Linked DNA regions of Homo sapiens. The protein of the gene in region 4 purifies or fractionates together with the protein of the main gene of each other region. This does not show direct contact. Each region holds a gene or a part of one and is shown on either strand. Other genes may lie near its edges.

Region 1 (2,724 bases), on a different chromosome or scaffold from region 4:
TGCATGGCTCCAGCCTGATCGACAGCTTGTCTCAAAACAAAATAAAAAAAAATTTGAGTGTTCTAGGATTTTATTTTTTTTGAGATGGAGTCTCACTCTGTCGCCCAGGCTGGAGTGCAGTGGCAGGATCTTGGCTTACTGCAGCCTCTGCCTCCTGGGTTCCAGTGACTCTCCTGCCTCAGCCTCCCGGGTAGCTGGGATTATAGGCATGTGCCACCATGCCCACCTAATTTTTCTATTTTTTGTAGAGACGGGGTTTTACCATGTTGGCCAGGCTGGTCTCAAACTCCTGACCTCAGGTGATCCGCCCTCCTCGGCCTCCCAAAGTGCTGGGATTACAGGCATGAGCCACACCGCACCTGGCCAGGACTTTTTTTTTTTTTTGCCAAAGTCAATTTTTATATATAAAAAGGAATAATTAGTCTTAAGGACCTTTCCTAATTCCTAATGACATTTCTTCTCTCCCCACCTTTAGGCTGATGCAGCAATCGGTGGAATCGGTTTGGAATATGGCATTTGACTTTATTCTTGACAATGTCCAGGTGGTTTTACAACAAACTTATGGAAGCACATTAAAAGTTACATAAATATTACCAGAGAGCCTGATGCTCTCTGATAGCTGTGCCATAAGTGCTTGTGAGGTATTTGCAAAGTGCATGATAGTAATGCTCGGAGTTTTTATAATTTTAAATTTCTTTTAAAGCAAGTGTTTTGTACATTTCTTTTCAAAAAGTGCCAAATTTGTCAGTATTGCATGTAAATAATTGTGTTAATTATTTTACTGTAGCATAGATTCTATTTACAAAATGTTTGTTTATAAAGTTTTATGGATTTTTACAGTGAAGTGTTTACAGTTGTTTAATAAAGAACTGTATGTATATTTTGTACAGGCTCCTTTTTGTGAATCCTTAAAAACTCAACTCTAGGAAGCAACTACTGTTTATTATACTAAAAGGCTGAAAAACCTCCAGGCCAGACTGCTAAGCTCTGAAATTCCTGAGAGGTCTCAGACCGGGATTCTACTTGTTCCAAGAAAGGGTAAAGCTTCTAAACCATCTTATTCTTGTCTCCAAGCATGAACACAGGAGCATGTTAAGAAAATCTTTACTACTTCTTCCATGCGGAGAAATCTACATATTTTGAATTAGAAACACCCTCACACCCACTTGAAGATTTTTTTCCTGGGAACATTATGTCCCGTAGATCAGAGGTGGTGTTGTCTTTTTGCTTCTACTGGCCATTGAGAAACTTTGATGATAAAAAAGAACGGTATAGATTTTTCAAACGTATATAAAATATTTTTATGTTATATGTTATGCCATAACTTTAAAATAAAAATAGTTTAAAATTCTATGCTAGTGGATATTTGGAACTTTTTCCTCAAACAAACACCCCACACTGACTTCAGCAAAACCCTAAAACTAGCTACAGATTACTACTACGAATGAATCATTAAGTTTTGTGTCTGCAACAATTTAGAAGCACTAAGCCCAAATATCAGGAAATGTGTGTATGATGGAATTTTCTAGGACAAAACAGATCAAGATTAAAACAGATCAAGATTAATGTATAAAAATCTCTACTAAAACAGATCAAGATTAAAACAGATCAAGATTAATGTATAAAAATCTCTACTGTTACCAGGTGCTGGCATACAAGGTAGTGTGATGATAGTTTAGTTTGTAAGATAATTCTTGTCCTAGGAGGACAACTTGTGGGAGAGAAGCTACACTAACATGGAAGCCTAACAGAGCTTGCTTACTGGTGGATGTCTGTTTTCTTTATTGGTAGTTTGGTTTAGAATTGTGATGATTACAATGGACTCGTGACTACACAAGCAGTAAAAAGCAGCCAGCTGTGCTTTTACACCATGGTTTCACACAAAGCAGCTAAAGAAATATCAGAATGCCTAATTTTCTATTTTATAAAAGCCCTAAAGGCATATGGCAGAAGAATGCTGGAAAAATCACTGTGGGAAGAATATGCATAAATAAAGAAGTATTTCTTACGTCAAAAAAGTCCCAAGAATCACAAAATCTGCAGAAGCTTGGTTAATCAAATACTGCAGTACTGATTTAATCAGTATAAAATCGAAAGAGCTTTAGATCTGTAATAAAAATCCAAATTTGGGGAAGGGCAAACTTTAAAACAGCAGCCAAGTAGAGAAGGGTTGGGGAAGGGAGAGGTGAGTGAACAGGCACATTGGAACTGTGGGGACATGTAACTGACCACTGTCAAACCAGTGTAAGTTTCTTGGTTTCTCATGGAAAACATTTTATACACCTATTTTTCTTCCTTCCATACTTAAGTCCATCAGTGTCCAAATACGTCTGTTCCATTTTTTGTCTGATTTTTGTTGGGATATTACAACACAGTATTGCATTTACTCCAGTTCCTGCTCCATGTGAAAAAATTAGATGATTTCAAATACTTTCTTCAGCTCCACAATAAGCTGCCAGTCACTCTTCTGCATTTCATCTCTGAACCAGTCTTTGAGTGCATCAATGGACTGCCGGCTGATCTGCAATGCCCGAGGCACAAACAGGGTAAACAGAACATAACAAACGTGCCAAAGAAAGCTGTGGCCCCAGATGCCCGCTCTCACTGTACTAAAAAGCTTAAGCAGAAATAAAAAACAGGGCTTGCCTGCCTAAGGGAGTAGAATTCCAAAATCACATCTGGTTTGCATGTCAGGCACGAGGGGACCTAAAAGTCCTAGCTTTC
Region 2 (3,505 bases), on a different chromosome or scaffold from region 4:
CCTCAGCCTCCCAATCCACTTCGATTTTCTACAGGCAACTCAAACTCAAAATAACCAAAAATTAATTATTCTCTCCAGTGAAAACACTCTTCCAATTTTCCCTATCTGACTATGGCACTACTGTCCGATTTTTTAAGACAGAAACCTGGATGACATCCTTAACTCCACTCTCTTCCTTACCCCTCACCCCCTACATACACAATCAATCACCAACATTACTTTCTTTAGTATCTCTTGAATTAATTATCTATTTATTTTTATTTCCACCACCACTAAAACAATCCAGACTACTTTCATCTCTCCCTTATTATAGGAAAGTATTAATGAAGAAGCCTCCTACTGGGTCCTCCTACCATCATTTTTGTTCCTGCCAATCCATTCTTCAGAGAGCTGAAAGAATACTATACTCATGTCATCCCACTGTTTATTTTTTTAAAAAAGAGAGAAAACTCAAAATGGTCCTTAAAAACTTGTCCCCAACTTTCAGCTCATTTTTCACTATTCTCTAAACTAAATTCTATCCAAACATCCTCCCTATTCACTCTTGCCTTTAGGCAAATAAGTATACCTGGTTATACTTTCCCTCTGCCTTTTAGAAATGCCTCCCCCTTTATTCACAATTGTCTCAGATTCATTCTTAACAACTCTGGAAACATCCAGTTGTAGCACAAATAACACTGTATTAAAATTGCTTAATTTACTGGACTCCCACATGGACTGCAACATTTGCCCTACCTCCAGCTTTACCTATCAGGCTATGGTTTATTTATCACTATCCGTAACATGTGCACAGGGAAGACTTTTGATAAACATTTGTTGAAAAATGGCAATGAAAATTTTTGCAGTTCTGGCCTTCATCTCCAATAATATACTATTTGTTATTTTATTTTTTTTGAGACAGTGTCTGGCTCTGTCGCTCCGGCTGGAGTAGAGTGGTATGATCACAGCTCACGGCAGCTGCAGCCTCGACCTCCCAGGATCAGATGATCCTCCCACCTTAGCCTCCCAAGTAGCTAGGCCCACAGGCCTGTGCCACCACACCTAGCTGATTTTTTAATTTTTTGTAGAGACAAGGTCTCACTATGATGCCCAGGCTAGTCTCAGACTCTTAGACTCAAGTGATCCTTCCACCTCAGGCTCCCAAAGTGCTGGGATTACAAGCATAAGCCACTACACCCAGCCTTACCCACAATAATATACTATTAATAGCAGGGACATCCAGCTTAATGTATCAAGCCACTATTGGTCATAAGAAAACAACTGACATAACAACAACAAAGCCCTCATGGGCATTCTATGAAGTTACAAAGTAAAGAAATAATGCACATGAGTCTTCAGTATATGAGGCATTCTTTGAAAGTCAGCATTTCATGTTTTCCTGCTAATTATAATAAAATGCAAGATAAATATTTACTGAAAATGATACTTTTTAATGTTATCTTTTGAAAATTAAAAAGTAACCCAAACACTTAGTAAAATAACCAAATTACAAAAAAAATAAAATTGTCTCCTTACTCCAAGAACCCCACAAATCCTCCTTCTCAGAGTTAACAATCATTCATTGTTTTTTAATGTTTCTCCCAGACTTCTCGATGCATTTGTGTCAAAATACATACACAAACACACATATATTTTTCTTACCACAAAAGACTACTAGATGCATGTTCTGTATCCTTTCAATTAACAATGCATCCTGAAAACTCATTCCATATAAGAACACACAGATCTACATTTTTCCTTTTAACAGCTACCCAGAAAGCCACTGTGTGGCTATAATTTATTTAATCACTTCAGTATTGATGGACATCACACTGTTCCCAGACTTTACATTATTATAAACAATGCTTCAAAGAACAGTCTTAAACATACATCTTTGCACACGTGTGCAAGCATACTCAGGATAAATTATGACAAGTGGAATCTATGGTCAAAGAGTAGATTTGGATAAATAGTTTCAAATTGCACTCTGAAGAAGTCACACCAATCTATACTCCCATCAGTAAAATATGAAAGACTATTGGCCCATGTTTTTCCTCTATGTTGTACATACTGTTAAACATTTTCATCAATGCCCATCTGAGATTCAAAAAATAATACCTCATTAATTTGCATTTATTTAGATACATATTAGGTAGTATATGTGAGGTTAATGTATTAGTAGGACATGCATATTTTTTATTTTGGTAAATTGCCTATTTGTGCCCTTTATCCATTTTAACTGGATTATTGGCCTTTAGTTGATTTCAAAGAGCTTCTTTATATAATAAGGAAATTAGCTCTTTGTCCTACATTGCATATGTTTAGAATTTTTGGTTTTGTTTTTTAAGCTTCTTACATCTGAATGTACATTTAACTAGGCAAAAGTTTTTAATTTTAACATAACCTACATTCAACTTTTAAGGAAGTATCAAAATGGCTTGCTTTGCAAAAATAATATAAAAATTTTAACATGAAAACTACTATTTTATTGAACATGGAATATATGATAAATGTGTAATGCATATAAAAACGTTTCCATTTTACAGGCAATTGAATGAATATACATTAAATATACATTACCTGCCTTTCCGCTGTATGGCACTAGCTTTGGAAATCCATACCATTTTTAACATTGTAACAAAATTCAGAGCATCAAAGGATTTCTGTAATATTTAAACCATCTTTATGTTAGAATATAAAAGGTATTTAAAAGGTAATAGCAAGAATGTTATCAACATATTTTAACATGCCAAAAGTTTAATTCAAAGTCCTCTCTTGATTAAATAATTAAAACAGCAGTACTGATTTTTAATAAACCCTGATTTTCTGGTTACAAACATACTAAGAAAAAAGGATTTAAAAACTAAACTCAGAAGAGCGTAAAACTTCTCCATTCTGTGCTCTGCTGAGCTATTTGTTGCTCTCTGCCACAGCTGGATAATGGCAGCCAGTTCTCATAAGACATCAAGATTGGAGAGAACGGATCTATTCCCTTGAGGTCACTTTCCTATCAGATTTGCATCACTGTGCAGAATAAGAAGATCAAGGAAAGACATTTTCTGAAATACTTTTCAGGGACCTAACCTTGTGGAGTAAGAATAACAATCAATAATCTTATCCCAAAGAGAAATATTTTTAACCACTTCCACTTTACTTCCTGCTGAGCTACTAACAAAGTTAGCCTTTCCCGAACGTTACAATGAAGAAAGTAAAAAAGAACCATTGTTATCCACATACTTATTCAAATAACCTACAGTGAAAATTTATTGTAGAGAAATATTTTAAAGAAATACAAGCCTAACTAGAACATGTATTTCAGTCACTCGGTACTTATACTTTCCCTTTCATAAAATAACTGCATAGAGCAAATAAAAATGTTTGCATAATAGTTTATAAAATTTTTAGAAAACAGCTTATTTGGTTTTTAATATGACATTACATTTGTCAATTTTGTATGTTAAATAACTTTTGACACTACCCATGTTTTAAATTTCAGTTACTTAATAAATAAGTAACACCTAAAGGA
Region 3 (3,505 bases), on a different chromosome or scaffold from region 4:
ATTTACAAGCGTTCCTGGAACCAATCCCAAACAGATACTGAGGAACAACTGTATGATAATTAACAAACAATAGGTCATAGATCTAAATGTAAGAGCTAAAACTATAAAACTTTTAGGAGGAAACACAAGAGTGAATCTTTTATGACCTTGAATAAGACAATGATTTCTTACATATGACACCAAAAGCACAAGAAACAAAAGGAAAAATACTGTCATACGCCACTTAACAATATTTTTTGACAAAGACATGGCTAGGTGATTTTGTCATGTACAAACATCATTATGTATTTACACAATCCTAGGTGGTACAGCCTACTACACACCTAGACTACATGGTATAGTCAATTGCTCCTTGGCTACAAACCTGTGTAGCATGTTACTGTTAAATACTGTAACAACTGTAACAAAATTGTACTTGTGTATTTAAACATATCTAAACATAGAAAAAGTGCAGTGAAAATACAGTATTATAATCTCTTGGGACCACTGTTGTGTATGTGTTTATCACTGACCACAACATCATTATGCAGCACATGACTTACATAAATTGGACTTCATCAAAATTAAAACTTCTGTGCTTAAAAGGCTCACGCCTCTAATCCCAGCATTTTGGGAGGCTGAGGCAGGCAGATCACAAGGTCAGGAGATCGAGACCATCCTGGCTAACACGGTGAAAACCCCATCTCTACTAAAAATACAAAAAATTAGCCAGGCGTGGTGGCGGGTGCCTGTAGTTCTAGCTACTCGGGAGGCTGAGGCAGGAGAATGCTGTGAACCCAGGAGGCGGAGCTTGCAGTGAGCTGAGATCGAGCCACTGCACTCCAGCCTGGGTGACAGAGTGAGACTCCGTCTCAAAAAAAAAAAAAAAAAAGGACATCATCAAGAAAGTAAGAGGACAACCCAAAGAATGGAAGAAAATGTTTACAAATCATATATCTGAGAAGGGACTGGGACTGGTGTCCAGAATATATAAAATACACTTATAACTCAACAATCGAAAGATAAACAACCCAATTAAAAAACAGGCAAAGGATATGAACAGACATTTCTCCAAACATATACAAATAGTCAACAAGCACATGAAAAGATGGTTATTAGGGAGACACAAATCAAAACTACAATGATACTTTCATACCTATCAGAATGGCTAAAACTAAAGGACAGGTAATAACCATTAGTGAGGATGTGGAGAAATAGAAAGCCTCAAACTTGCTGGTGAAATTGTAAAATAGTGAAGCCACTTTGAAATTGTTTTTCAAAAACAGTTTGGCAGTTCCTCAAAATGTTAAATATGGAGGTGCCATGCAACTCAGTCATTCCACTGCTAGGTATATACCCAAGAGAATGGAAAACACATATCTACACAAAAACCTGTATGTGAATGTTCAACAGCATTATTCATCCAAAAAGTAGACACAACCCAAATGTCCACCAATTAATGAATGGATAAATAAAATGTGGTATATTCATAAAATAAAATATTTGGCAATAAAAAGAAATGATAAAATAATACATGCTACAACAGATGAAACCTATTGAAAACATTACACTAAGTGAAAGAAAACATATTGCATGGTTCCATTTCTGTAACACATCAAGAATAGGTAAATCCAGAGACAAAAAGTAGATTAGTGGCTAAAAGGGGCTTGAGGATGGTTAAGGGGGGAATTCTATAGCAAGTGAACTATGTCTCAATAAAGCCATTATTAAAAAGAAACAACGGCCCTGTAGTGGTGGCTCACATCTGTAATCCCAGCACTTTGGGAGCCCAAGGCAGGCAGATCGCCTGAGTCCAGGAATTTGAGACCAGCCTGGGCATCATGGCAAAACCCTGTCTCTACAAAAATTCAAAAAAATTGGCCAGGCATGGTGGCACACTCCTGCAGTTCCAGCTACTGCTCAGGAGGCTGAGATGGGAGAATCACTTGAGCCCGGATGGAAGAGACTGCAGTGAGCCAAGATCGCGCCACTGCACTTCAGCCTGGGTGACAGGGTAAGACCCTGTCTCAAAAAAAAAAAAAAAAAAAAAAAAAGGTATACAAGGAATCAATACACCACCAAAATGAGCAAATGACAAAAAATACATGTTTTGCAAAGGAATAAATCCTCAACCTCACTAGTATTCAAAGACATACAAATTTTAAATATAAGACAAATTTTTTACCTATCAAGTTGACAGGTAATATGTAGGTTGGTGAGAGCACAGGAAAGCAGGCCTTCTCACATTCTGCTGGGATTATATTTTTTTACATTTCCTGCAGGAATTTTATAATATATATCAACAAACTTCAAGAGCTATATCCTTTGACCTCATAGTTCTCCTTTCAGGAAGTTATCTTAGGAACATCATTAGAAATACATACAAATATTAATACCTAAGAATATTCATTAAAATATTTTTCTAATAAAGAAAACCATTAAAAAGCCTAAAGGTTCCATAATACAGATAAATTATGGTAGCCCTGTATTATGAAATTATTTATATATCACACTTCAGTCTCAGAAAAAAGGCTAAGTTTGAAGTGATCAACATTACACCCCCAGATTCAAACACTGTCTTGGTACATAACAATCTCTCATTTATACGTTATTCTATGCAGCCATTAAAATTAAATTAGATTGGGTGCAGTGGCTCACACCTGTAATTCCAGTGCTTTGGGAGGCGGAAGTGGGAAGATCACTTGAGCCAGGAGTTCAAGAAAAGCTGGGCAACAAAGTGAGATCCTGTATCTACAAAAAATTTAAGAAAATGGGCTGGGCAGTGTCTCACACCTGTAGTCCCAGCCACTTTGGAGGCTGAGGCAGGACAATCAATTGAACCCAGAAATTGGAGGCCACATTGAGCTATGTTAGTGCCACTACTCTCTGCCTGTCAGATCTCATCTCAAAAAAATTCAAATTAAATTAAAGAATGTTTAATATTATTGGGAAATGTTTAATTCTTGTTAAGAGACTGCTGAACACATACAGTATCATCCCATTAATATACACAAAGGCAGGCTGTGACTATATACTAAAATGAGCTACTATAGTTAACAGTGGTTACAAATAGTAGATTTACGGGCAATTTTGTAATTTTTTTTTTTTCCGAGATGGAATCTCGCTCTGTCACCCAGGTTGGAGTGCAGTGGAGCGATCTCAGCTCACTGCAACCTCTGCCTCCCGGGTTCAAGCAATTCTCCTGCCTCAGCCTCCGGAGTAGATGGGATTACAGGTGCCCACCACCACGCCCAGCTAATTTTTGTATTTTTAGTAGAGACGGGGTTTCACCATGTTGGCCAGGCTGGTCTTGAACTCCTGACCTCAGGTGATCCGCCTGACTCGGCCTCCCAAAGTGCTGGGATTACAGGCAGGAGCCACCATGCCTGGTGTATAATTTGAAACTTGTATTTTCCAAAATTTCTGTGAAAAATATTACAGTTTTATAATCACACATATCAATTTCTTTCTTTATTTTTAGAGATAGGTTCTTGCTATGTTGCCCAGGCTGGCGTCAAATTCCTGG
Region 4 (3,505 bases):
CTCCACCTTCCCCCAGTGTTGTCTTACATCGCTGTAGTACTTGGGCTAAACCAAGAAACAGATGCTGGTATAGTTCAAATAAACGCAGATACAGTCTTATGTGATTTTACCAGTTTTTACATGCACTCTGTGTGTGTGTGTGTGTACCTGTATGTCTACAGTTCTATGCAACGTATCACATGTGCAGGCTGGAGTGATGACCATCACCATCAGAATAGAGAATAGTCACCACCACAGTTCCCTGTGCTCCTCCTCTGATAATCACACCCATCCTGACAACCACTGATCTGTTCTCTATCACTGTAATTTTTTTTTTTTTTTGCTTGTTGAGACAGGGTCTCGCTCTGTCACCCAGGCTGGGGGTGCAATGGCAAAATCATGGCTTACTGCAGCCTCAAACTCCTGGGCTCAAGCAGTCTTCCCATCTCAGCCTCTCAAGTAGCTGAGACCACAGGTGCACGCCCACATATCCCGCTAGTTTTGTAAATTTTTGTAGAGATGCGGGTCTCCCTGTGTTACCCTGGCTGGTCTCGAACTCCTGGGCACTCCTGCCTCAGCCTCCCAAAGTGCTGGGATTACAAGCATGAGCCACCGTGCATGGCCTATCACTGTGATTTTGTCAGTCCAAGAACGTTCTCTAAATGGAATCATGTAGCATATAACTCTTTGAGATTGGCTTTCAGCATAATGCCCTTGTGATCCATTTGAATTGTATGTAAAGAGCACATGCCTTTTTATTGCTGAATAGTATTTCAAGGTGTGGATGTACCAGTGTGTTACCCACTAACTTGCTGAAAAACATTTGGCTATTTTCCAGTTTTTAGGTATTACAAATAAAGCTGCTATAAATGTTCATGTAAAGTTTATTGCGTGAACATAAGTTTTCATTTCTCTTGTGTAAATACCCATGAGTAGGATTGCTGGATCACGTGGTAAGTATATGTTTAACTTTTATAAGAAACTGCCAAACAGTTTCCTAGAGTGGCTGTACCATTTTACATTCCTACAGGCAATGTAGGAGAGATCCAGTGTCCCCACATGTTTGCCAGCATTTGGTAACCTCAGTATTTTTTATTTAAGCCATCTACTAGATGTGTCGGGCTCCTTTTGATGGGCCACAGTCAAGAAGGCAGTTAAGCTCTGTGGCCTTCTGAGCTTAGCTGGGGTGACCTCAGATGTCTCTCATTGCTCCAGTTTTCCTGGTAGCTGTCTACACAGCAGTTTGGGCTGTCTGGCACTTAGGCGATGGAAAATGGGATGGTCTTTCTGGATGGGGGGGCTGAGTCTTTGGGTTTGCCCAGTTGCTCCTGACTGCAGTGGTGGGACATTGCTATCTGGGGATGCTGGGCCTCTTTGAGGCAGTGCCTCTTGGCCCAGCAGGAAGACTTGATACCAGTGGTACATGCTCCCATGGGGTAGGGCAGGTGAAATGACAGCTGTGGGGCAGGAACAGAGTTTGCCTGGGCCAGGGTCTTCCTGTAGCTTTGGCCAGAGGCTGTGTGAATACTTTTAATTTCTCAGGTTAGATCGTTATCAGCATAGTGTGAGAGGAAGTGGGACATGGAATCAATGTAGAGAGGCAAGGGTGGGACCACCAGTAGCACTTGTCAAATCTTGGGACCCACTGAACAATCTTTGCCCTTGAACTTTGTACTCTGTGACCACCCAAGACTCTCCAGCAGCATGTGGACACCTTGTCTGGATGCCATGGAACTCCTATTTTTGTCTCCTGTGGGTGAGATTTGGAAGCACTGCTGTCACCACCACATGGGCTTTCCTGGCCCAGGGGTCCAGGTCTCGTGAGCAATTAGAATGTCATCTGAGTATCAGAGGTGCTTCACTCAAGAAAGTTGTGCAGGACAACAAGGTGATGGGTTTTACATAAGGCAAACATTATAGTGAAGACTTGAACCGGCCCAGGCATTCTTGGAAAGTCACCCTCCATCTGATTCAAGGTACCTCTGGTTCAAGGGAGGTTGTAGACTTTTCCAGAACTCTTACTCATCATGACCCTGGAGCCATGAGTTTGGACTAGGAGGCCAAGAATCAGGAGAGTAGTGATCCTGAACAGGGATAACCTTGAGATAATGGAGACTTGCATGGGGCAGTGAAGCTTGGGGATCATCAACAAAATTCCCTGGTGGCTAAGCCCTGGGAGGATCCTGTGGAGGAGCTCCTTTGGGTTCTGGCTCTTGTGTGTCACCAGGTGCCTTTGCAGGGGATCAGCATAGATGTAGGCATGGAGGAAACTAAAGTTGATTTCAAGAACCTGAACGTGAACTGGGGCGGGTAGGGAGCTGAGCAGTCTGTCCAGGCAGAACTTGAAAGTCAAGTGATGCCTTGGTGGGCTCTGGAAATTGAGGTGGTGGGATGAGAGGAAGCCGGGCAGTCAGACACTGTCAGGTGATCAGTGGGTGTGGGTTGATGGGTTTCAGCAGGGTTATGCAGGCAGGATGAATAGTCAGACTTCCTCTTAGAGGATGGTGAGAGTTTAAAGAAAATGGTTTTTTGTTGCTATAATTGTTTTTTCCATTGTTTCCTAAATTTCCATTTTCAGGTTCCTCCTGCTCTGGCCTGCCGCCTCTCAGGCTGTGCTCCTACTCTCCTGCTGTCAGAAGGCAGCCCAGCACACAGCACCTTTCAGATTTAAAAAGGCAGGCACGGCTTGGGGCAGGTACCTCCCCTGACTGTGAGGTCACACAGTGGGACTCCATCCTTGAGGCCAAATCCTCAGCAGTTCCCCTCTAGCTCTTGCTTGTCTTCCTTTCAACTCATCCCTGCCTTGACCTCAAATTTGCCCACATATTTTAGTCTGGCACTTGCCCTGACCCTGCTCCGCTGTCTTGGTTTCTGACCCCAGATCCCACCTCCTACTCTGCTCTTGTGATGCTGATCACATGGATGCTGCCTGCACGGCTGCCCTCTGTCCTCCTGGGTCCAGCTTCTTCAGTGCTACCACCTCAGGGATCAGGGCACACCACAGTCTGGCCCCATTAGGTGACCAAGATGGGCACGTGGGCCCCTTGCTAGGTCTAGGCTGCCCAAGAGTGTCTTGAAGTACGGGCATGCCTATCTGAGGGCAGGTAAGAGCTCCTTGGCTGAGGCAGGGCGTTGCCTCAGGAGTGAATCTTCTCATTGGCGCCTTTTGTCTCTTACCTAAAGGTTGGGTGACTCTGGGCCCTTTGTCTAGTTCAACCTTTGCCATTAAATCTCTGAGTGACCACCAGGAAGTAAATGAACCATTATGGGCCTCAGTGATTTCATGTGTACAATATGGTTTCTTGATTCCCTAGCTAATAATCTTTTTACTACATCATATTACAGTTAAAGGAAAATCTAAAAATCAGAAGCCAAAAAAAGACTTTAAGTTAAATTCTGGCATAGACATACTAGCTCAGAGTTTCCTAATTTTTTTTGTCTAATAAATGTTTGCCAACTGAATATTTGTTGAACTGAATGCAGCATGTCAATAGTTCTCAGGCATTAATGCAGAAGAATTGGGAGG
Region 5 (2,671 bases), on a different chromosome or scaffold from region 4:
GTGCTCGCAGGCATAGGGACGCTCCCCAGAGTGCACACGCCGGTGACTGACCAGGCGAGAGGAGGAGGAGAAGCGCCGCTCGCAGTCCGGGCACGGGTAGGGCTTCTCGCCCGTGTGGATGCGCTGGTGGATGACGAGGGCCGTGCGCTGGCGGAAGCGGCGGTTGCACTCGAGGCAAGTGTAGGGCTTCTCTCCCGTGTGTGTACGCTGGTGGATGGCTAGCAGGGAGGGGTAGGCGAAGCGACGTCCACAGCTAGGGCACTGGTGGGGTTTTTCACCTGTGTGTGTGGTCCGGTGATTGGCCAAGGACCGGCTCCTCCGGAAGCAGCGACCACAGTCAGGGCAGTGATAGGGCTTCTCCCCTGTATGGATGACCTGGTGCTGGGAGAGGTTCTTGCGCTGGGAGAAACGTTTGCCACACTGGTCACAAACATAGGGGCACTCGCCGGAGTGTGCCCGCCGGTGACTGACCAGCAGGGATGGATAGGAAAAGCGGCGCCCACAGTCTGGGCAAGGGTAAGGCTTTTTTAGATTCTGGGCGCACTTGTGGCTCTCCAGGGCCTGATGATCAGGGAAGGTACAGCCGCAGTCAGGGCAGATGGGGCCCCCGGACGTCTGCCTAGGAATCAGTCGGGGTTTGCTGGGCCTCCGGCCTCGCTTCCCCTTTCGGGGTGCCTCCTTAGGCGGGAATACTTCCTTCTCCCCATTCTTCTTTCTGGTTCTGCTTTCTATAGAAATACAGAAGCATTAATTTAACAAATACTGGGCTCCTGCTCTTGTCAATTACATTATAGGTTACAAGACCAATAGACTCACCCCCTGGTCTCAATTCCTAGTGCCACAGACAGCTAAGTGTGACATACTGTCATGCAAATACGGTGTGCATTACAGGAGCTTCTAACCCAGCTTGGAGAAGTCTAGGAAGATTTCTCGGAGATTAAACTAACTTTAAAAATTGAGGCCGGGCACAGTGGATCACGCTTGTAATCGTAAGCACTGGGAGGCCGAGGCGGGCAGATCACAAGGTCAGGAGTTTGAGAGCAGCCTGACCAACATGGTGAAACCCTGTTTCTACTAAAAATACAAAAATTAGCCGGGCGTGGTGGCACGCACCTGTAATCCCAGCTACCCAGAAGGCTGAGGCAGGAGAATCGCCCGGGAGGCAGAGGTTGCAGTGAGCCGAGATTGTGCCACTGCACTCCAACCTGGGCGAGAGAGCGAGATTCCATCTCAAAAAAAAAAAAAAAAGGAATATTTTTGAAGAGGTAAGCTTACATCATTCAAAAGTCAAAATATCAGCCAGGCATGGTTGCTCATGCCTGTAATCCCAGCACTTTGGGAGCCCAAGGCAAGAGATCGCTTGAACCCAGGAGTTCAAGATCAGCCTGGGCAGCATAGTGAGACCCCATCTCTACAAAAAATACAAATATTAGCCTGGCCTGGTGGCACGCGTGCCTGCCTGTAGTCCTAGCTACTTGGAAGGCTGAGGTAGAGGATTACTTGAGCCCAGGAGTTCAAGGCTACTGTGAACCATGATGGCACCACTGTACTCCAGCCTGGGCAACACAGCAAGACCCTATCTCAAAAAACAAACAAGTCAAAATATTAATAAAGGAATACAGAGAAGTCTTGCTGCCACCTTTTTCCAATCTACCTTGTAGAAACCATATTAGTTTTTTCCCATTTTTTTGATGCAATACAAATGTCACCTTCCCTATCTTTCTTTCATAAGAGATTGCATACACATGCTTTACAGCGTATGTTCTCTTCCCCACCTTTCTTTTTTTTTTTCTTTTTTGAGACAGAGTCACGCTCTGTCACCCAGGCTGGAGTGCAATGGTGTGATCTCAGTTCACTGAAATCTCCGCCTCCCGGGTTCAAGTGATTCTCCCTGCCTCAGCCTCCTAAGTAGCTGGGATTACAGGCATGCACCACTATGCCCAGCTAATTTTTTGTATTTTTAGTAGAGTCAGGGTTTCACCATGTTGGCCAGGTTGGTCTCGAACTCCTGACCTCAGGTTATCTGCTCACCTCTATCTCCCAAAGTGACTACAGGCGTGAGCCACCATGCCCAGCTCACCTTTCTTATACAAAAGACAACATATACACACCTTATACACACTTTACATTTTTTCACTTAATATATTCTAAAGATCATTTTATGTCAGCAAATCTTTTTTCTATTTTACAGCTACACAGAATTCCATTGTGGATGGTTTATTTGACTTAGCTGATTCTTTAAAAAATGTGGCTGGGCGTGGTGGCTCATGTCTGTAATCCTAGCACTTTAGGAGGCTGAGGCAGGCGGATCACCTGAGGTCAGGAGTTCAAGACCAGCCTGGCCAACATGGTGAAACCCCGTCTCTACAAAAATATAAAAATTAGCTGGGCACAATAGCAGGTGCCTATAATCCCAGCTACCCAGAGGCTGAGGTGGGAGAATCACTTGATCCTGGGAGGCGGAGGTTGCAGTGAGCCAAGATCACGCCATTGCACTCCAGCCTGCATGACAGAGTGAGACTCCATCTCAAAAAAAAAAAAAAAAAAAAAAAAAAGAATTAAAATTATGCAGTGTTAGAAACGTAAGTCCCAGCCAAGCGCAGTGGCTCATTCCTATAATCCCAGCACTTTGGGAGGCCAAGGTGGGCGGACTGTGAGGTCAGGAGTTCGA
Region 6 (3,505 bases), on a different chromosome or scaffold from region 4:
ATGATATAAACTGTGTATGTTACACATACTTGTGTATATTTAGTATACACAGAGAACACTGAAAAGGATACATCAAACTGGTAATAAGTGTTACACATTGGGAATGAACTGAATGGGGGAAAGGATATGGGTCTTTCACTTTTTCCTTCAAATACTTCTGTCTAATTTGATTTTTTTTAAACAAGTATCTTATTACTTTCATTTTTTAAAGTGCAGGACATTAAAGCTGAAAGGCGCCCCTAAAGACTAGCCAGTCTATCTAGAAACAGTGACTCACATATCCAAGGTCAAAGAATAGGAGTAAAAGATTTAGAACTCCTGACTGCTATTCTGGTTTCTATTAGATCCTGGTGCCAGGGGAAATAACTGCCATCAAATAATAAGCCTGTACTTGCTACCCTTGAATATTCATCATCTCTAACTTTACAGCCACCTCACAAGATTATACTCATAAAGAAAAGAGCTGAGAAAGAACATTCCCAAAACTATACCCACCACATCATGCTACCAAAGTAACAGTACAAACCCATACAAAAGACGAGAGGCAGATTCCCAGGTGTCTAATGGGGCAGTATGAGCAGATTTTAAGCACGGCATAAATCTCTTCTTTGAATTTCAAATACCTATATTGCCTCTGTAAGGTTTCTAAGAAGAGGGAGAAAGTATGGGAGGAGAAAGAGAGCAGAAAAGGATGCCAGCTTCCAACCAGCAGCCTCAGAGCTATAAATCTAGCTGAATGATACACCAGGTCTTAGAAGCTGGCTGTGAAAAATGGTGGAAAGAACACTGAAGCAGGTGTTAGATAGACCTGGACCTGAGTTCTGGCTCTGCCATTTACTATTCTGCATCCGTGGGCAAGTCATCTGAACTCACTGAGGCCTGTTCCCTTCAAATGTAAACTGGAGATAAGAATAACATCTACTGGCTGGGCGCGGTGGCTCATGCCTGTAATCCCAGCACTCTGGGAGGCCAAGGCAGGTGGATCATGAGGTCAGGAGATCGAGACCATCCTGGCCAACATGGTGAAACCCTGTCTCTACTAAAAATACAAAAATTGGCCGGGTGTGGTTACGCGGGCCTGTAGTCCCAGCTACTCAGGAAGCTGAGGTGGGAGGATCGCTTGAGCCCAAGAGCTGGAAGTTGCAGTGAGCCATAATCCTGCCACTGCACTCCAGGCTGGGCAACTGAGCAAGACCCTGTCTCAAAATAAATAAATAAATAAATAAATAAATAAATAAATAAATAATCTCCCCCTCTCCCCAAAAAAAACACCTATGGTGACAAGTTAATGAGATAGTATCTAAGGCTTGGACAAGTTGAAAGCCACTTGTCCCAGATCGCATAGGCGCAGTTGGGATCTTCATGTAGATCATATGAATGGAAATCTCCTGAGTTTTCCTATGTAGCACATGGCCCCTCTTTCTGTATGGTAACAGGAGGCCTCATGGTATGGTCATTAGAACAACAAATTTTGGAATAAGATAGAATTAAGTTCAAATTCTAGCTCTGCAACTTAACTCACTATGTGACTTAGAACAAGGGATTTAACTTTTTTGAACCTCAGTTTTCTTTTCAGTAAACTGGAAATAATAAGTACCTATTTCAAAGGATGCTATGAGGTTTAAACAAGATAAGCACTAACTATAGTGCCTGACACATTATAGGCACTTAGTGGGAGCTATATGTATTTTTCTCTCATTAACTCCCAGGATGTTCTGACAGCCTGGCCAAGCATCTACAGGAGACAAGTCAAAGTTTTAAGAGAAGATGAAATAACAATTCTTCCTTGGCATCTCCAATGGAGTAGAGAGAAGGCAACAAAGCTTCTCAGACCCACATTACCGAGCTATAACAACCATGGCTGGGAGGAGCTGAGAGTTGGCAAATCAATAGTTTAGCTATGTTGCTGAACCTTCCTGGATGGCAAGACCATGGAAGTCCATCACAAGATATTATGGGGTCAGGAGCCTCACTGGGTTCTGCCCCTTATATAGGTGAATATCCTGGGAAAGTAAAAATGAAAATACAGAGTCTGGCACCAGTTCCCTGCAAGCCTGGTCCAGCCTGGATAAAGAAGTGAGGAGAGTAATAATACTGCCTTACACCTAAACAGTGCTTTAGTTTATCAAGCTTTTTGCATCCTTATCTTACAATAATAGTCTGTAGAGTCAAACTTCATGAGTTATTATTCCCATTTTACAGATGGAAAAACTGCAACTCAGAAATGTAAAGTGAGTCGACCAAGGCTAAAGCGGCAAAACCACTATACTTTATAACACAGAGTTTGGCACTATTTCCACTTTGTTCTCTCTCAAAGATGAAGGCTCAGGAGGAGGGAAGATAAAAACAAATCACTGGAGAGTCCTGGCATGCTGGAACATGGACTCTAGCTAGCAAGAAGGGCTCAAGGAGGTGGCCTTCTCCTAGACCTCAACTTTGATGCAAAAGCTGTTTTGCAGCCTGAACAAAGACAATCCAATCCTCCAGCAAATGGCGTCATTTTCCCTACGTGTCTAGCCTTGAGCTACAGAACAAAAGAACAATCACATCCGAAGTTGTAGTTCGCCTGGTTGCGGTGGCTCACGCCTGTGATCCCAGCACTTTGGGAGGCCAAGGTGGGTGGATCACCTGAGGTCAGGAGGTCGAGACTAGCCTGACCAACATGAAGAAACCCCATCTCTACTAAAAATACAAAATTAGCTGGGCGTGGTGGCACATGCCTGTAATCCCAGCTACTCGGGAGGCTGAGGCAGGAGAATCGCTTGAGCGTGGGAGGCGGAGGTTTTGGTGAGCCAAGATCGCGCCACTGCACTCCAGCCTGGGCAACAAGAGCGAAACTCTGTCTCAAAACAAAACAAAACAAAACACGCACACACAAAAACAAAATTAGCCGGGCGTGGTGGCACATGCCTGTAATCCCAGCTACTCGGGAGGCTGAGGCAGGAGAATTGCTTGAACCCGGAGGCAGAGGTTGGGGTCAGCCAAGATTGTGCCATTGCACTCCAGCCTGGGCAACAAGATGGAAACTCCGTCTCAAAAAAAAAAAAAAGGTTGTAGTTCAAAAGCAAAGTTGGGAGTTGGGGTGGGGGAAGACTGAGAGCCAGAAGATGAACCAAGCTTCTGCTCTCTCAACTTCATTCAAGTGAGAAGGGAAACAGAAGATAATGGGTTAAAAAAAAATGACATGGATTCAAGTATCAGATGGAAATAGAAAATTAAACATAAAACAGTTTTTAAATGGCATAGGAGTGTGAGCCCATGGCGCAGGTCAAGGGGGCACTGGAAGGAAGCCACTGGTCAAACATCTCAAAGACTGCTCTCTAGGAAAAGCACATATCCCTTGTTAGAGCAGCTAGTCTACCCATTTTCACTATAGTTCTGAAACAGGATAGCAGCAGCCCAGTGTGACAGAAAAACAAAAATAAAAGCAAAAACTGAAAAAAGAGAATATAGCAGTGAACATTTATTGAGTACTTAATTTTCTATTTTATTTATTTACTTATTT
Region 7 (3,505 bases), on a different chromosome or scaffold from region 4:
TATGGGAGAAACAGTGGAATATTTTTATGACATTTTTAGGAAATCACCTGGCTTGGTTGGTAGTCCCACACTGACTTTCCTTATGATAATTCTACAGATGGAGGTGACACGAGCAGTGATGAGGATAAAGAAGAACATGAAACTCCTGTGGAAGTAGAACTCATGACTCAGGTTGACCAAGAGGATATCACTCTTCAGAGTGGCAGAGATGAACTAAATGAGGAGCTCATTCAGGAAGAAAGCTCTGAAGACGAAGGAGAATATGAAGAGGTTAGAAAAGATCAGGATTCTGTTGGTGAAATGAAGGATGAAGGGGAAGAGACATTAAATTATCCTGATACTACCATTGACTTGTCTCACCTTCAACCCCAAAGGTAATTAAAAAATAAAATTTTACATATTATTGTGTAAGCTGAGAATGATGATGAGGTAATCCTTACAAAGATAATACCAAGATTGACATCAGTACTTTTACACTCCATTGTCTTAATACTTTTTCAACATTTGATTGGGTCTCTCTGCAAAGAAATTCCCAGGACCAGGGTAGAAAAATACAGTGCATATAGAGTGGCCAAACTAGATCCAAATAGAAACAAGTAAATGGTTATAAATGCTAAAAACATAACAAAGGCAATTCCATCAAAGAAATGTGTTTTAGTCTATATAATGTTTTGCAGATCATCAGGTGAATAGTCCATAGTTATAAATGCATAATTAACTTAGGGGTAATTCAGAACAGTCTAGGAGTCAGACAGACCAGTATTGGGTCTTAGGGTGCGTCCTTGGGAAAATTACTTTGTGCTTAAGCTTCAGTTTCCTTCTTGGTGAAAACAGAATGGTATCCCTTTCATAGGGATTTGGTGAAGGTTTCATGCGTGTATACCATCTGGCAGTGCCTGACACACAGTAAGTTTTCAATACACGTCACCTATTTAAAAATGTATATGGAAGTGTGGAGAGAGGAGCAATTTGGTTGTATGTTTTTCTCACTTCACCAAATTTGAAAATTTGTTGGATTGCCAGTACTTAAGAGTATGATATGGGAATGTTTTGGGACTTTGTAAATGCATGTCTTTTACAGGCTAGTAGAGACTCCCTTGTGTTTATTTTCATAGGTCCATCCAGAAATTGGCTTCAAAAGAGGAATCTTCTAATTCTGTAAGCTATTTTCAGTTTTATGAAGAACATCCGATTCTCAGTGAATAATTTTCTACTTTTCAAAAAAGTTAATAGTGATATTTGCATTTGCCTGTTTTTTTGTTTTAATAGAGTGACAGTAAATCACAGAGCCGGAGACATTTGTCAGCCAAGGAAAGAAGGTAAACACATCTGTGTTAATTAACTAAAAAGCATGTTTTTCTTTTTTTTTTAATTGATAGCTCAGCTACCACAGATTACTTAGCTGTTTAAAGACTTCCTTCATTAAATTTACCAAGATTTAGCACAAATGTTTAGTTTTTAATATTAAGCTCTAATACATTTTTCTGTTTAAGGGCCCTAATCTATAACTATAATCAATGAAATAGACCTAGTAGAGTAAGTCCTCACTTAACATTTTCCTTTTTTTTTTTTTTTTTTTTTTTTTTGAAACAGGGTCTCGCTTTGTTGCCCAGGCTAGAGTGCTATGGCGCAGTCATGGCTCACTGCAGCCTCAAACTCCCAGGCTCAGGCAGTCTCCTGCTTCAGCCTCCTGAGTAGCTGGGACTACAGGCGTGTGCCACTACAAAAATTTTTATAGTTTTTGTAGAGACAGGGTTTCATCATGTTGCCCAGGCTGGTCTTAAACCCCTGGGCTCAAGTGATCCTCCCACCTTGGCTGCCCAAAGTGCTGGGATTACAGACATGAGCCATTGTGCCCGGCCTTCACTTAACATTTTCTTTTTTTTTGAGATGGAGTCTCGCTCTGTCGCCCAGGCTGGAGTGCAGTGGCATGATCTCGGCTCACTGCAAGCCCCACCTCCCGGGTTCACGCCGTTCTCCTGCCTCAGCCTCCCGAGTAGCTGGGACTAGAGGCGCCCACCACCATGCCCGGCTAATTTTTTGTATTTTTAGTAGAGACGGGGTTTCACCGTGTTAGCCAGGATAGTCTCGATCTTCTGACCTCGTGATCACCCGCTTTGGCCTCCGAAAGTGCTGGGATTATAGGCATAAGCCACCGCGCCTGGCCCACTTAACATTTTCAATAGGTTCTTGGAAACTTGGACTTAAGGGAAACAGTGTGTAATGAAACCAGTTTTGCCATGGGCTAATTGATATAAACAAGAGTTAAGTTCCTCTGGCATATTTTTGGTCACAAAACCATCACCAAGCTTCTAAATAAAGACTGAAAACTCTTCTAATATTAAACGTTAAAATAAATGTAAACTGTATGTATATTTAAGAAAGATGAATGAAAGCGAGCAAGATAATTATTTACCCAATTTTTGGTAAATCAATGAGTGATGGCAGTTGTAGTGGTAGTGGGTTAAATCAAGGATTATTTGCAAAGTGAAAACTATAGAGTACCTCCTACTACCATGAGGTTCAAAAACAAAAATGTGGCACATTCATTAAACACTTTCATACTACATTGTTGATTGTTATACATTTGTATGACTATAGTTTATGAATTTTTGACAATCATTTTTATTAAGTCATTCATTCATTCATTCATTCGTTTTTCAACCGCTTATTCCAGTTAAGGGTCATTGGTGGCTAGAGCCTATCCTGGCAGGTCAGGGCAAAAGGCCAGAACCAACCTAGAACAGGATGTCATTCTGTTGCAGGGCACACATACCTGCACTCATTCATGCTGGGATAATTTACACACACCAGTTAACCTGACATGCGCATTTTGGGATGTGAGAGAAAACCTGAGTACCTGGTGAAAACCCACAAAGACATGGGGAGAACATGTAAACTCTGCACAGATGGTAGCCGTGGCCAGGAATCAATTTTGTTCTCATCAAAGTTATAACACAATGATGTTGAATGAAATGATGTTATTTGAGGACTAGCTCTAATAAGACCTTTTATTACATAAACATGTACAATAATGATTTCAGTGTATTACATAGACTAGTTCTAGGGTGATATTGTCAGGAATAAATATGAATACCTGAAATTAGGAAAGTTTTATGTAAGGCAGAATAGTTGATTTTTTGTTTTTTGTTTTTTTTGAGACGGAGTCTCGCTCTGTGGCCCAGGCTGGAGCGCAGTGGCTGCGATCTCGGCTCACTGCAAGCTCTGCCTCCCAGATTCATGCTATTCTCCTGCCTTAGCCTCCCGAGTAGCTGGGACTACAGGCACCCACCACCACGCCCGGCTAATTTTGTTTTTGTATTTTTAGTAGAGATGGGGTTTCACCGTGTTAGGCAGGATTGTCTCGATCTTCTGACCTCGCGATCCACCCGCCTTGGCCTCCCAAAGTGCTGGATTACAGGTGTGAGCCACCGCGCCTGGCCGATTTTTTTTTTTTTTTTAATAGCAGGTCTCAGGAAGCAAGTAGAAGCAAGGGAAGGGCGGA

What was found.
Region 1: the proteins of ZBTB38 (region 4) and EIF5B purify together in Homo sapiens (affinity purification with mass spectrometry; 2 studies listed by BioGRID and IntAct, with this or other methods). This does not show direct contact.
Region 2: the proteins of ZBTB38 (region 4) and YTHDC2 purify together in Homo sapiens (affinity purification with mass spectrometry; 3 studies listed by BioGRID and IntAct, with this or other methods). This does not show direct contact.
Region 3: the proteins of ZBTB38 (region 4) and MRPS35 purify together in Homo sapiens (affinity purification with mass spectrometry; 2 studies listed by BioGRID and IntAct, with this or other methods). This does not show direct contact.
Region 5: the proteins of ZBTB38 (region 4) and ZNF689 purify together in Homo sapiens (affinity purification with mass spectrometry; 3 studies listed by BioGRID and IntAct, with this or other methods). This does not show direct contact.
Region 6: the proteins of ZBTB38 (region 4) and ZCCHC17 purify together in Homo sapiens (affinity purification with mass spectrometry; 2 studies listed by BioGRID and IntAct, with this or other methods). This does not show direct contact.
Region 7: the proteins of ZBTB38 (region 4) and NEMF purify together in Homo sapiens (affinity purification with mass spectrometry; 2 studies listed by BioGRID and IntAct, with this or other methods). This does not show direct contact.

Annotation. Positions count from the first base shown.
Region 1 is NC_000002.12:99,399,104-99,401,827, reverse strand, and holds the end of EIF5B (eukaryotic translation initiation factor 5B), read right to left. Parts: intron 2,522-2,724; coding exon 2,414-2,521; 3' UTR 588-2,413; downstream 1-587. Other genes in the region: DNA repair protein REV1, read left to right, coding at 476-587. UniProt on the Homo sapiens protein: Plays a role in translation initiation.
Region 2 is NC_000005.10:113,555,189-113,558,693, reverse strand, and holds part of YTHDC2 (3'-5' RNA helicase YTHDC2), read right to left. Parts: intron 2,643-3,505; coding exon 2,560-2,642; intron 1-2,559. UniProt on the Homo sapiens protein: 3'-5' RNA helicase that plays a key role in the male and female germline by promoting transition from mitotic to meiotic divisions in stem cells.
Region 3 is NC_000012.12:27,724,327-27,727,831, reverse strand, and holds part of MRPS35 (small ribosomal subunit protein mS35 isoform 1 precursor), read right to left. Parts: intron 2,256-3,505; coding exon of another isoform or gene 2,247-2,255; exon of another isoform or gene 1-2,246.
Region 4 is NC_000003.12:141,375,002-141,378,506, reverse strand, and holds part of ZBTB38 (zinc finger and BTB domain-containing protein 38), read right to left. Parts: intron 1-3,505. UniProt on the Homo sapiens protein: Transcriptional regulator with bimodal DNA-binding specificity. Binds with a higher affinity to methylated CpG dinucleotides in the consensus sequence 5'-CGCG-3' but can also bind to E-box elements (5'-CACGTG-3').
Region 5 is NC_000016.10:30,604,720-30,607,390, forward strand, and holds part of ZNF689 (zinc finger protein 689), read right to left. Parts: intron 729-2,671; coding exon 1-728. UniProt on the Homo sapiens protein: May be involved in transcriptional regulation.
Region 6 is NC_000001.11:31,359,528-31,363,032, reverse strand, and holds part of ZCCHC17 (zinc finger CCHC domain-containing protein 17), read right to left. Parts: intron 3,446-3,505; exon of another isoform or gene 2,236-3,445; coding exon of another isoform or gene 2,203-2,235; intron 1-2,202.
Region 7 is NC_000014.9:49,797,289-49,800,793, reverse strand, and holds part of NEMF (ribosome quality control complex subunit NEMF), read left to right. Parts: intron 1-97; coding exon 98-374; intron 375-1,115; coding exon 1,116-1,158; intron 1,159-1,269; coding exon 1,270-1,319; intron 1,320-3,505. UniProt on the Homo sapiens protein: Key component of the ribosome quality control complex (RQC), a ribosome-associated complex that mediates the extraction of incompletely synthesized nascent chains from stalled ribosomes as well as their ubiquitin-mediated proteasomal degradation.